Linked DNA regions of Homo sapiens. The protein of the gene in region 1 interacts with the protein of each later gene in a biochemical or structural test. Each region holds a gene or a part of one and is shown on either strand. Other genes may lie near its edges.

Region 1 (3,748 bases):
TTGGTCTGGCTGGTCTCAAACTCCTGACCTCGTGATCCTCCTGCCTCGACCTCCCAAAGTGTTGGAATTACAGGCATGAGCCACTGCATCCGGCCTGAAAGGAACTTTTATCAGTGTATCTTCTCTCAGCTCCTCATGAGGCTTATCCTGGGTGGTGTGTGCTGGAGGCTGGGCAGAGGGTGCTTCTTAGACAACTTCCAAGGTAAGTTCATAGGCAACATTTCCTTTGCTACTCTCTCTTTTCTTCTCTCTCGTCCTCAGGATTACCCTCTGCATCTTTTCCATATGAAAACCCCATTTCCTCTTTCCTTTATTGAATGCCCCTCAAAATCAGAACTTACATCATTAGGCATTATTCTCTATTTCCTTGATGATATGGAGGATGAGATTTTCAGACACTATGCAGAGGTAAGGGGAAATATTTATATTCTGCATGAGAGTTGGGAGAGGGGAGAAAGAAATCCTCCACCCCAGATCGGGTTAATTCATCAAAGCAACTCATTAAATTTTCGTGTTAAAAGAAGTTGAACATTCACACTTCGCTCTACTTGGAGCTTCATTAAAATGCAAATGAACACAGAAGGGTATCTGTTCTTAGTTATCTGGCCTAACTAAAGATTAATTGCAAACCCTTTCCTGAGAGTAATTTTTGATAAATGAGAACTAGGGGGAAATTAGGTGCTTGAGAGAGATGCAGAAAGGGCACAGCTGGAGGATGTGACAAGAAAAGAATTGGAAAGACTATGGGAAGGTTTTGCTGTAGCACTGCACAACTAAAGTTATATTTACTTCCTAAACCACAAACTTAAAATACGCATATAATTATACTTTCCAAAGAAATATCATGGTTTATTCCTTCCAACTACCTATGAATCTTGCTCTCAGTAACCATGCCTGTCTTCTCCATAGTCACACCCACCTGGTCTAAACTATACCTTTCTCTTTTGCAACAAACTTAAATTCACTAACCCTATCTGTGAACTTGGATACAATTCCCTCATCTTTCATGTGCCACCAGTCCAAAATAAAGATTTTCAATGCTAGTAACTTTATGTATACCTCAGTGAGCATCCAATAAATTCTGTACTCTCAGCCTACATCCCCATAACTGCTCTTTTGAGAAGAGATGAGACCAGAACACACCTGAGATGTTCAAAGCAAAGATGTCTAAGGGATTCAAAGCTAACTTCAAACCAGAGCATGTCTAGCAAGTTGGCTTTTTCAAAGAACTCCAACATCATTGGAGGGACTAAGAAAGCATGGGAGAAATGAATGCTATAATAGGAGTGAATGGGAAGCAATTTGAGACCAAAAGTAGAGAATCTAAGTAGCAAAAAATGACCAATTTTGTAAAAAAATCAAAAGTTGCCAATAAATGGCTATCAATGAACAATAGGAAATGCCATTAGCATCAGCGGTAGTGGGAGTATTATCAGATATGTTACCCAAGGATTCTACACAAAGGAAGAGGAAAGTTTGGGATATTTGAAGACATGATGACTTTACTGTAATAATTATTATCTATTACCTTGATCGTCTTCTTCAAAGTTAGAGTGGTCTAGGGAAGCTAGGGACAAGTTTTTATTAACTTTGTTAGTCTACCCACCTTTCTCCCAACACTTCAAGAATTTGTGGCCTGGGAAAACTGTGTTATAATAGGACATCCCAAAGCTGCTGGAACATCCTGACGCTCTGAAATTGAAATACTTTTCTGGGAGCTGATACATTTATTTAGCTGCTGACCATAACACACCAAAGACTGCAACAGACCCCACCCTGGAAGAAAAGCAGGCAGAGAATAAGGAAGTCATATATCACTGGAGAAAAATTAGGATTCTCCAAGCTGTGCATACTTTTTGTTTTAAATTTTTTACACAGGCTTGACAATGTTTAGAAAAGCCAGTCCAACATTACCAATAAAAGATTAGTGTTTAACCCCATATCCCATAATTGACACTGCAAATAAGACATTTAGGATTTATCTTGAAATTCCTACTGAAGTTCGATTTTCTTTTAATCACTGCTAAATCTGCATCAAGTTACACAAACTTTCTAACAGAAAAGTGTTTGTGACTAACAATAAATGAACTCCGTTCTTAGTAAGTTAATTTTAAAACATAGATGATCATTCTATCTCCTTAGTTTTGGTTGCCAATGCAAATGAGTCAGAGGATTTGCTTCAGACACTGAGATAATTGTGTAACTCTACAGCGGAAAATGCCATTGGAGAGTACTTGCTGACCTCACAGTTGAAAAAAACTATTTAAAAGATGTGGAAACCAGATGTTTCAGTCACATTTCAGCCACTGCTCTGAGAATTTGTGAGCAGCCCCTAACAGGCTGTTACTTCACTACAACTGACGATATGATCATCTTAATTTACTTATTTCTCTTGCTATGGGAAGACACTCAAGGATGGGGATTCAAGGATGGAATTTTTCATAACTCCATATGGCTTGGTAAGAACCTTCACTCATGAGCCTCTTGTTGAGAATGTCAATTCTTTAAATCATGGAGAAGGAAATTTAAAGCAGTAACTTTTTCTATTCTGTACAAGGCTGATGTTCTCAAAGAAAATGCTTAGGAAAGATAGCCTTTGGAATACATACGCTTTTTTTTTTTTAAGCGTTCTTGTCCTCTAAAATTTAAAAATAGCATTTTATAAAGTGAATTGTTCAGTAGAAAATAGCAGTTAATATTTATATTCAGTATGAAAATATATTTTTAAACTTTTCAAAGCAGATGTAGTAGTACAGTGAGGAGTATTTCTTTAACCAACTAGAAACTCCAATATAGTCTTCTGTTTTTATGTCAATGCATTTGCAATCAGATTTCAGAATCCTAACAGGTAAATTGGAGTCTACGAAAATTTTATAATAATTGCTTCATGGACTCTGAGCTATAGTCTATATCTTAGTTTTTTCAAACATTTTGACTATTTTGACCAAGCCAGCTTGCAGTACAGAAAAAAGTGAAAAATGTTTCTCCTTCTGAATGCATTCTTACCACTTTGATTCTTTCTGTTTCTACTATCCATATAAATACTTTTCTGACCCTTTTGTTAGACAAGGAAAGTTTCTTTTGTTATTTTGTTTTGTTAAATGTAAGGAATGAGACAGGCCAAACAGTGAAGATAAACAATAGATCAAAAAAGGAAAATGCAGAAAATCCAAAACACCCCTTAGATTACAGTATGCTAAACAATGCTTTAATTCTCATGATACAAATTGATATTGCTCTATGTTCATTATTGTGTTTAATAGTAAAAAAAAATTGAATTTCTTGGGGAAAAATGCATAGATTCTTGCATAGAATAAAGAAATAAAGAGAAGGCGAAATTAACCTAGATTTTGATTTTATGCTTTCTAAACAGCACAGTTGTAGAATATTTTCCCTTTCAGCATGTTTCTCTCTGGTAATAACTGCAACCATGCGGATTTCATTAAAAAGCCTAATTTGTAATGCACAGCCTTGCCGCCTATTTTTTTCAGCTTGAGCCAGTGAACTAATTTCACTGTGATCCATTTGGCCAAGACGGGATCTGAAATTTAGTAGAGGAATGAGCCCATCTCTTTATTTTAGTTGAATACAGTCAAATATAGGAAATACACTCATATTTGTCAGGATTTTTTTTAAATGTCATAAAGCTAGTAAGAATTAAATCCAGGCAGATAAACTTTGAAATATTATCAAACCCTCTAATAATCAAGTAATTTAGAGTTGTCTTTTAAAGTGTTGTCATATGTTA
Region 2 (3,748 bases), on another chromosome or scaffold:
GAAGACAAGGGACTCACCCCAGGCCACACAGCAAGAGCCTCACCTGTAGCTGGAGGTCTTGATCCTATCCTCCCCTGACCCCTCCCAGGCGCCAGCTTACCTGTGCCCTTTTTACACGTGAAGGGGAGGTGGTAATTGCAGGGAACATCATTCCACTCGCCCTTCTCGTGCCAGATCATCACCACACAGTCCTCTCCAGCGGCAAAAAAGTTGTCAGGCTGGTTGGGGCGCCAGTTCTCAAATTGCTGTGGGTGGGAGTGGGGAAGGAGTAAGGAGAGGGCAGGACAGTGCGGGTTGGCCTGCTCCGACTGTCTTCCCCGTGGAGCCTCTTCATCATCTCCTTTCTCTTTTAGCACCAACTTCAGGCTCATCTGATAGCAGCACAAAAACTGCTGGGAATCTGATCAGGGCTGTTCTAGGGGCCATGGAACCCGGTGGCCCTCTAGGGAATCAGTCACACAGCTTGGCTCAGGTCCTTCTCAGGAGCTCAGAACCCCCAAGACTCACAGGCTCTGTACATGAGCTGATTCCACACCTCTTATCCAGAAGGGCCAACCAGGGCTGACCACATTGGGTAGGGATGGATGGTAGGAACACAGCTCTTAAGTCCAGCTTCTGCCCACCAAGAAGTCCTCCCAAGACTTATCCTTCCAGCCTTGCTTCAGGACAAAGAGAATCACTGGGTGCCCGTACCATTCACTTGGCATCTATGTTGCTTTCTGTCTGTCTCCTTGAGTAGACTCGAGTTCAGTGTGGGCAAGAAACCTCTCTAAAGCTTCCGTATACTCCTCATGGTGGTGGCTGTTATTCCTTCATTTCCTTCCTGGCTCCTTGCCTCTTGCCATCATTAGCTCAATCTGTCCAGCCCCGGGCTGGGTTCCAGAGGCAGAGATGAAGGAGATAATCCCTGCCCTCAAGGGTTCCCGGTCCAGCAGCTGGTAAGCGGCTGTCTGCATGGGGTTTGAATGCATCTCTCTCCAGGGGTCTCTATCCCACTCCCTGTCCCCTGGGCCACCAGCTGTGCCTACAGCAGAACTCACCATGGGGTGTCCATCTGACCAGCGGAAGTCCCCTTCGATGGTCCTGTCGTTCAGGCCGATCCACTGGTAGTCTTGGGCATTGTCTGGGGAAAGGGTGAGGGTGTCAGGCATCACACTGGACACCCTGAGGGTGTCTGAGAAACTTGAGCTCACGGAGGCAGAGGGGATGGAGGAGGAAAGGAGGTGGGTGGGCTCCTAGGAGCAAGGCACGTGCTTCTCAGGTCCTCACAAGAGGCTCAGCACGTGCATGCCTGGAGTGCACTTCGGGCCACCTCTCCAAGCTGGCATGGACGGGTGACAGCCATAGCTTAGTCTTGGGCTGACTCTGGCTGGCAATGGGTCTGCCCTGGCTGCAGCCACAGCTTCTGGCCCCAAAGACCGTTGTCTTCTCTCTGGGAGCTCAGACTGTGGGAACACTGTTCCCCCTCCCCCAGGTCCCTGTCCTGCAGTCTCACGAGGCCCAAATCTGCTGCCTTCTGAAAGGTGAGGCCCTTTGCCTACACCGCCACTCTCCTCTCAGGCTCCAGAGGCCCCGCCGCACTCACTGTTGACAAACTCCTGCTCCTCGGGGGTGACGATGCTGCTCAGGTGTGACTGCTGCTCCCGACACCGGCGCTCAGCATCCACCCAGGTCTCGCGGTCCGGGAAGTGGCGGTAACAGTGGCCCTGGTACTTGTTCCAGCCCTCCTCACATACCTCCTGGTCTGCAACACAGGTCAGGGGCTTGAAGGGAGGGGCAGAGGCCACCAGGGGATGGCAGATGCTGCCAGTCTTATGGCATAGGTTCCTGCGTTCACCCCACCTTCCATGCTGTGCCCTCAAGGGAAGGGAGAGGCACAGCTGGAGGAGTTCAGGTTGGAAACTGGTCTGGTCCCTGGGAGCCTCTGCACATGCTTCCACTCGGGAAAATGCCAGGGGCCCTTTCCTTCCCTGATGCCACGCCCTCCCCCCTCACCCTCTCCCAAGCTTTCCTCCTCTTGATGCCTGCTCTGCTGGGCCGGCAGAGGTCAGCAGTCCAGTTCAAAAGAGGTGGGAAGGTGAGAGGTCTTGAGATTTAAGGCAAAACATGGTTCTGTGGCTCTGGGGGGCTCCAGGGAGAGAGGGAGTGGAGCTGTGGGGAAGTGTGTGGAGGCAGTGGAAGCTGGTAGCGCTGGGGCATGGAGCGGAGCTGGCAGTTTCCTTCCTGCAGAACCTCAGGTGGGAACAGAGGAGCAGAAATAAGTCTGCTTGGGGTCTGGAGAAGACTCAGAGCTCTAAGGCTGTTGATCAGAGTTGGCTTTAGTTAAGCACACTGTGCCTGCCTCTTGCAGGGGTCAGATAGCCCATTGGGGGTCTGGGATCCAGGGGCCCTGGCTTTTTATTTTGGGGGTGAATGGGAAGAGGGGAGGAGCTTCTCTCCTCACAAACCTAAATTCGTAATGGGTTCTCAGTCTGGAGAAGGGGCTGGCTTGGAGTTCTTGGACAGCCTAGGGGACAGGCGGAGCCATGCTGAGCTGGCTCACTCAGCTTTGAGAGAGCTCATTGTTAGTGTCTCCTCTCAACCTCGCCTTCAGTGACATCATGTTGATAGCTTTAAACTGGCCCCGGTGGAAGCATTTACACCTCAGGAATTGGCAGATGCTACAATCAGGGCTCCTTTCTCCTCTATGAGAGCTGGTTGTTAAACATCTGCCAGCACAGTGTGGGACAGAGTGAATTCCAAGGCCCCCCTTCTTCCTTCTTCCCCTGGGATCTCCCAGGTGGAGGGTCACAAACCCCTCAGGCTGCATGGTGGTCTCCCTGATTGGGTGCCACCATACTCTGGCTGTCCTGGAATGGAAGGACCAGTACCCGAGGGGAAGGAGTCTTAGGCTGAAGGGGTGGATGCTTGGCAAAGTGGGGGAGAGACAGTTGGGGACAGTGGAGGGAGAGCAGAACAGGGGGTCAGCAGCTTGAGAAGAAAGAACAGAGCTGTAGGAGGGGCCGTGGAGGCCTCTGGTGCCTCAGCTATGAATGCCTTCCCCAAGGGGTGAGGCTGCAGTCTGGAAAGAGGTGGAGAGGCCTCAGACTAGCTCAGCACTCTGAAGAGGCCAGAGATATCATCTTAGGGCTGACTTAGGGGGTCAGTTTTTGGCCCCTTCAGTGGCTAAGGGCTGAGCTGGGCAGGCAGAGCTGGAGGGTGCAACTTCTCTGGGAGGTGGGTATGGGAGGGCAGGGCTGTGCAGGCTGAAGATTCTTAGGAAACAGAAACAATTCCAGACTGAAAGAGGTAACAGGGACAGAGCCAAGGCAGGAGGCACCGTGGAGTGGTGAGGACTCAGGATTGGAATGGGAGAGGAGATGCAGCCCTGCTTAGCTGGGCCCCCAGGCCCAGGGCCGAGCTGGGTGGCTCTGTCACCATCTCTCTGCCCCATCAGGGTACAGAGCCCTGTGAGGGTCCTGCCTCCATTCCAGCAGAGCCCACTTTTCCAGTCTGGAACCAAATAGCTGTTGTCGGCATGGAAGTCCCAGACTCTTCTACCCTGTGGCAAATGTTGTGGTATCATGGGGAGAAAATCCTTGTAGTCTCTGCTTCCACCCCAGCCAAGACCCCATATACCAATTTCTTGGGGTCTTGGGGTGAGGATGGAGGGTGGGAGGCTGCAAGGGAGTAGGAGTGTCCAGGCCTTTTTTTTCCCAAAAGTCTTAAGTTCCTCTACCAGTCTGTAACCTTGGCAGTGCCTCAAAGG
Region 3 (3,748 bases), on another chromosome or scaffold:
GGGATCCGAGCGCCTTCCGCGGTCCTTTTGGGACTTCCCTCTGCAACCTCCCCTAGTGCCGTGGATACCTCTAAACATACTCATGCCAAGTTTTCAAAGTTCCCAGCCGCTGTCGGATTCCCTAAAAGTCTCGGTGGGAAAACTGCACTCCAAGTTAGGGGGCAAAAGGCGGCAGTTTAGAGGGGAAAATCGTACTGAAGAGCCCTCTTCCCAGGATGGCCACACTCGGGCTGGACTCTCCTGCTGCAGTTGAGTTAACCTGGCCAGAGCTGGGCAGAAGTGAAAAAAAGCGCGGAACGTGCTCAGGGAGTCCGCAAATACACGCCCGCTGGGGACAGCGCTCCCGGAGCCCCGCGGCCCGGCCGGCCAGCCGCCTCTGGGGGCCTCGGCGCGCAGCCCTGCCCGCGGCGCGGGGGAGCGCATGTGCCGCCCACCGCCGCGCAGGTGGCGGGAGCACAGCCTGCCTGTCCCCGCGTTCTCTGGCGCACCAGGCGGGACCCGCGCGCCGGGAGCTCCTCCACCCCCTCACTCCATCCCCTGGGCCCGGGACACTGAAAAGGGGGAAATGTTCTCGTCATTACGTTACCCCAAATCCTTACCCAGGTTCACAAAGCTCATGACCATGTCCGCGTCGTTGAGGAAGGCGCTGTCCTGCGCGCTGGTCAGTGGGGACGCGCCGCCGCTGCCAGATCCGGGGGCCAGAAGGCTCTTGCGGTTGAGCGGGTGCGCGGCGCCCGGGGGCGGCTGCCGACGCTGGGACGAGCTGGCTGCTTCGTGGGGCCAGGACTGCTGCCTCTCCCCCTCCGACGCCCCGTCCTCGTCGTTGTCGGCGGACAGGGCGTTGTACAGATCCAGCATGAAGAGGGGCGCGGACTTCAGTCGCCCGGGAGGGGGCTCTCCGCGAGGCAGCTGCTGCTGCTGCTGCTGCTCCTCCTGCTGCCGGAGCGCCGGGGGCTGCGGCTGTTGGAGGCCGTGCAGGGGCCGGGGCCGGTGCGGGAGCCCCAGCACCGACAAGATCTCCTTCTGCATCTCCCGCTTCTCCTGCGTCTTGAGCCGCCGGTACAGGAAGCCCGAGGAGGACTGCGGCGACGGCGGCGGCTGCTCCGTGCGGCCGGGGCTCCCGCCGTCCCCCAGCAGCTGCCCCCCGGCGGCGGCGGCCGCGGCAGCGGGCAAGGGCGGCCGCAGCGGCGGGGGCCCGCAGCAGCTGCACAGCAGCCCCCACCACCAGCACAGCCACTGCGCCCTCCGCCCCAGCCCCGGCATCCCCGCCCGGCCGGGCTGCCCCCGCGGATCCCGCGAGGCGTGGAGCGGCGGAGCGAGGCCGGAGCGCGGCCGCTGTGGCCCTTGGCGTGAGCAGTCCCCGCCACCTCTCGGCGGGCTCGCTTCCCCTTCCTGGCCCTCAGTCCTTATCTCTCATGGTCGTCCGGGGCGCCCCCAGTTGCCCAGGCTAGAGAGGTGGCGAAGGGGCGATCACCAGGAGAACCGCTTGGAGGGGAGGAAGGGGAGCCTCACAGCCTCGCGCAGGTCTCTAGAGGCGCGCGGTCCAGGCCAGGTGCGTCTGAGTCCGGGCTGCACTGCAGCCTGCGCCCTGGCTCCTGCGAGTCGCGGCGCGGTCACTCTGGGCCTCGCTGGCCGCACACGTGCGCTGCCCCGCGCTCTCCCTGGCGACTGAGTGGGACCCGGGGCAGCGGGGAGCGGGGCCGCTCACGAGCTGCGGGAGATGCCCGGCATCACCGTGGCGCACGCCCCTCCCCAGATCGCAGGGCCACCATGAAGTTTACCCCGTTGCAGGGCCCAGGCTGCGGCGACAAGGCGTCCCGAAATGCCAGTCTATTCCGCGAGGTTTAACTTCCTTCTCGCTCACGAACTCCGCGCCCCTGAGCTCTCGGGCACCGTCGCTCCCACTCAAAATCTCCGCGCGCCGCACGCCTCCTCAAGCGGAGGCGGCGAGGATCTTGCTTTCCGTTCGGCGGTCGCCCGGCTGCCCAGCAAACCCGCTCGCAGAAAGGATGGGAAGGAAGGGGGCTAGTGCACCGAGCAGCGGCCGCGGCGGCGGCGCCGGAATTCGGTCTCCCGCCTCTCCACGCCGCGCTCCCCGCAGCGGCCAACGTGGGCTTTCTGCTGCGCGCCCGGCTCAGGTACCTCACTCCAGCCCCGGGACTCCCCGCCCCGCGGTAACCGACAGGCTGGCAGCCAATGGGGACGCGAAGCTCGCGGGCTATTTAAATAGCCCCGCCCCTTCTTTCACCCTCCCTCTCCCGAGAGGCGTCGCCTCCGCCGCGCGTAGGTTTCAAGACCCGGGAATTCTTGGAGGCATGCGAAGAGCCGCGAGGTGCCAAAGGCGAAGAGGTCATCGCTAGTAAGAATGATCTGACCAATACCCCGATCTGAAGCTTTCTCTTTTACCATCATTTAAAAGGCCTAAGTTGATGCTTTAACTAAATAAAAATAATAACAGCGATTAAATCACTATACTGCCAGAACTGAGGAAGAAAAGAAAAATGATAGCTTTTCCATCCCTTCCTTAGTTTCTCTTATTGATGTAATGTAGGCGTTTAGCGGACACGTGGCTTTCCACGGCAGCTGCTGGAAGTTGGGACACACCCTCCGGGGAGGCTACTCACAAACTGACCACAGAGAGGGCCACATGTAACCCAAGCCAGCGTCCTGAGGGTTTGGGGTCGGATGTGTTGACTTCTCTGTTCATTTGTGCTTTGGTTTGGCTTCTTAAGCTAGCACCCAAAAGAAAGAGGGTGTAATCAGACGATATATTAGAAAAGGCGTCCCCTGTCTTCTTGGAAATGTCTTGATTCTCCAGCTTATCTATTAATGTTGCATTTTAATATTGAAATACAATGTGACTTATATGGTGCAAGATAAAACTTGAGGAGAGGTGATAAAGATAACTCCAGGAAGAGCAGGGGCTTGGCATGCATTCTGAATGGTCAGGACAATAGACAGGGTCCTGAAACACAGGTTCCTGTGGATTTTAGACAAGATAACACCACCACCAACACCATTTGCCAATGAGGACACAAATTCATTTGCCTTTACCCCGCCCGAGAACATCCAGTCATCTATGGATCGTAGAAGCAAATTCACGTAAAACATGAAGGTTTTTTACTTGGTGAAAATTGTGTGGAGTTGAAAATAAAAACTGCAATTTTCTGACTTGCCAGCCTTAGTCCAAATGGTCCTAGGCATTTGAGAGTGAAGTCAAATAGATTATAGACTGTGGGATTCATGAATTTATGAGATCATAGGCTTTCTGTTGGTCCAAATCTTATAAGCATTCCTATCCTATTTCCAAGAATCTATTTCTCATGGGTAAATAGAGACCACCACTGACTCCAACTACCCACTGAGTCCTTCTTTCTAGTTCTGCCTTGGCCCAGACACAAGTGGTCATTTAGAAGAGTCTTTATTTCTACAAATATCTGATAGCTATGAATTTCAGGGCACAAAACTTATGTGAATGCCAGTCTTTAACCATCTCTACAGGGATTTCTTCCATCCGAAAAGATAATACGATACTTTGTCTGGGATGCCCGGACCCTCAGAATTCAAGAGCCCTGTCACTTCTTTTTTCTGTAGGGAACATGTTAGGGACATAAATTCACTGCAGTGCCCCACAGCAGCCAAGAGCTCTGCTCAGAAGATCTGAAATTCCAGCAAATACACCTAGGCTTCCTGCCAAGAGCCTCCTTTTTTAAACCTAGTTGCACCTTCCTCATAAGACTTCTGGTGA

What was found.
Region 2: the proteins of TNFAIP6 (region 1) and ACAN form a complex in vitro, tested with the Homo sapiens proteins (one study listed by BioGRID).
Region 3: the proteins of TNFAIP6 (region 1) and BMP6 form a complex in vitro, tested with the Homo sapiens proteins (one study listed by IntAct).

The regions. Positions count from the first base shown.
Region 1 is NC_000002.12:151,355,302-151,359,049, forward strand, and holds the start of TNFAIP6 (tumor necrosis factor-inducible gene 6 protein precursor), read left to right. Parts: upstream 1-2,290; 5' UTR 2,291-2,365; coding exon 2,366-2,459; intron 2,460-3,748. UniProt on the Homo sapiens protein: Major regulator of extracellular matrix organization during tissue remodeling. Catalyzes the transfer of a heavy chain (HC) from inter-alpha-inhibitor (I-alpha-I) complex to hyaluronan.
Region 2 is NC_000015.10:88,869,378-88,873,125, reverse strand, and holds part of ACAN (aggrecan core protein isoform 3 precursor), read right to left. Parts: intron 1,745-3,748; coding exon 1,586-1,744; intron 1,124-1,585; coding exon 1,041-1,123; intron 246-1,040; coding exon 101-245; intron 1-100. UniProt on the Homo sapiens protein: This proteoglycan is a major component of extracellular matrix of cartilagenous tissues. A major function of this protein is to resist compression in cartilage. It binds avidly to hyaluronic acid via an N-terminal globular region.
Region 3 is NC_000006.12:7,724,471-7,728,218, reverse strand, and holds the start of BMP6 (bone morphogenetic protein 6 preproprotein), read right to left. Parts: upstream 2,121-3,748; 5' UTR 1,264-2,120; coding exon 600-1,263; intron 1-599. UniProt on the Homo sapiens protein: Growth factor of the TGF-beta superfamily that plays essential roles in many developmental processes including cartilage and bone formation.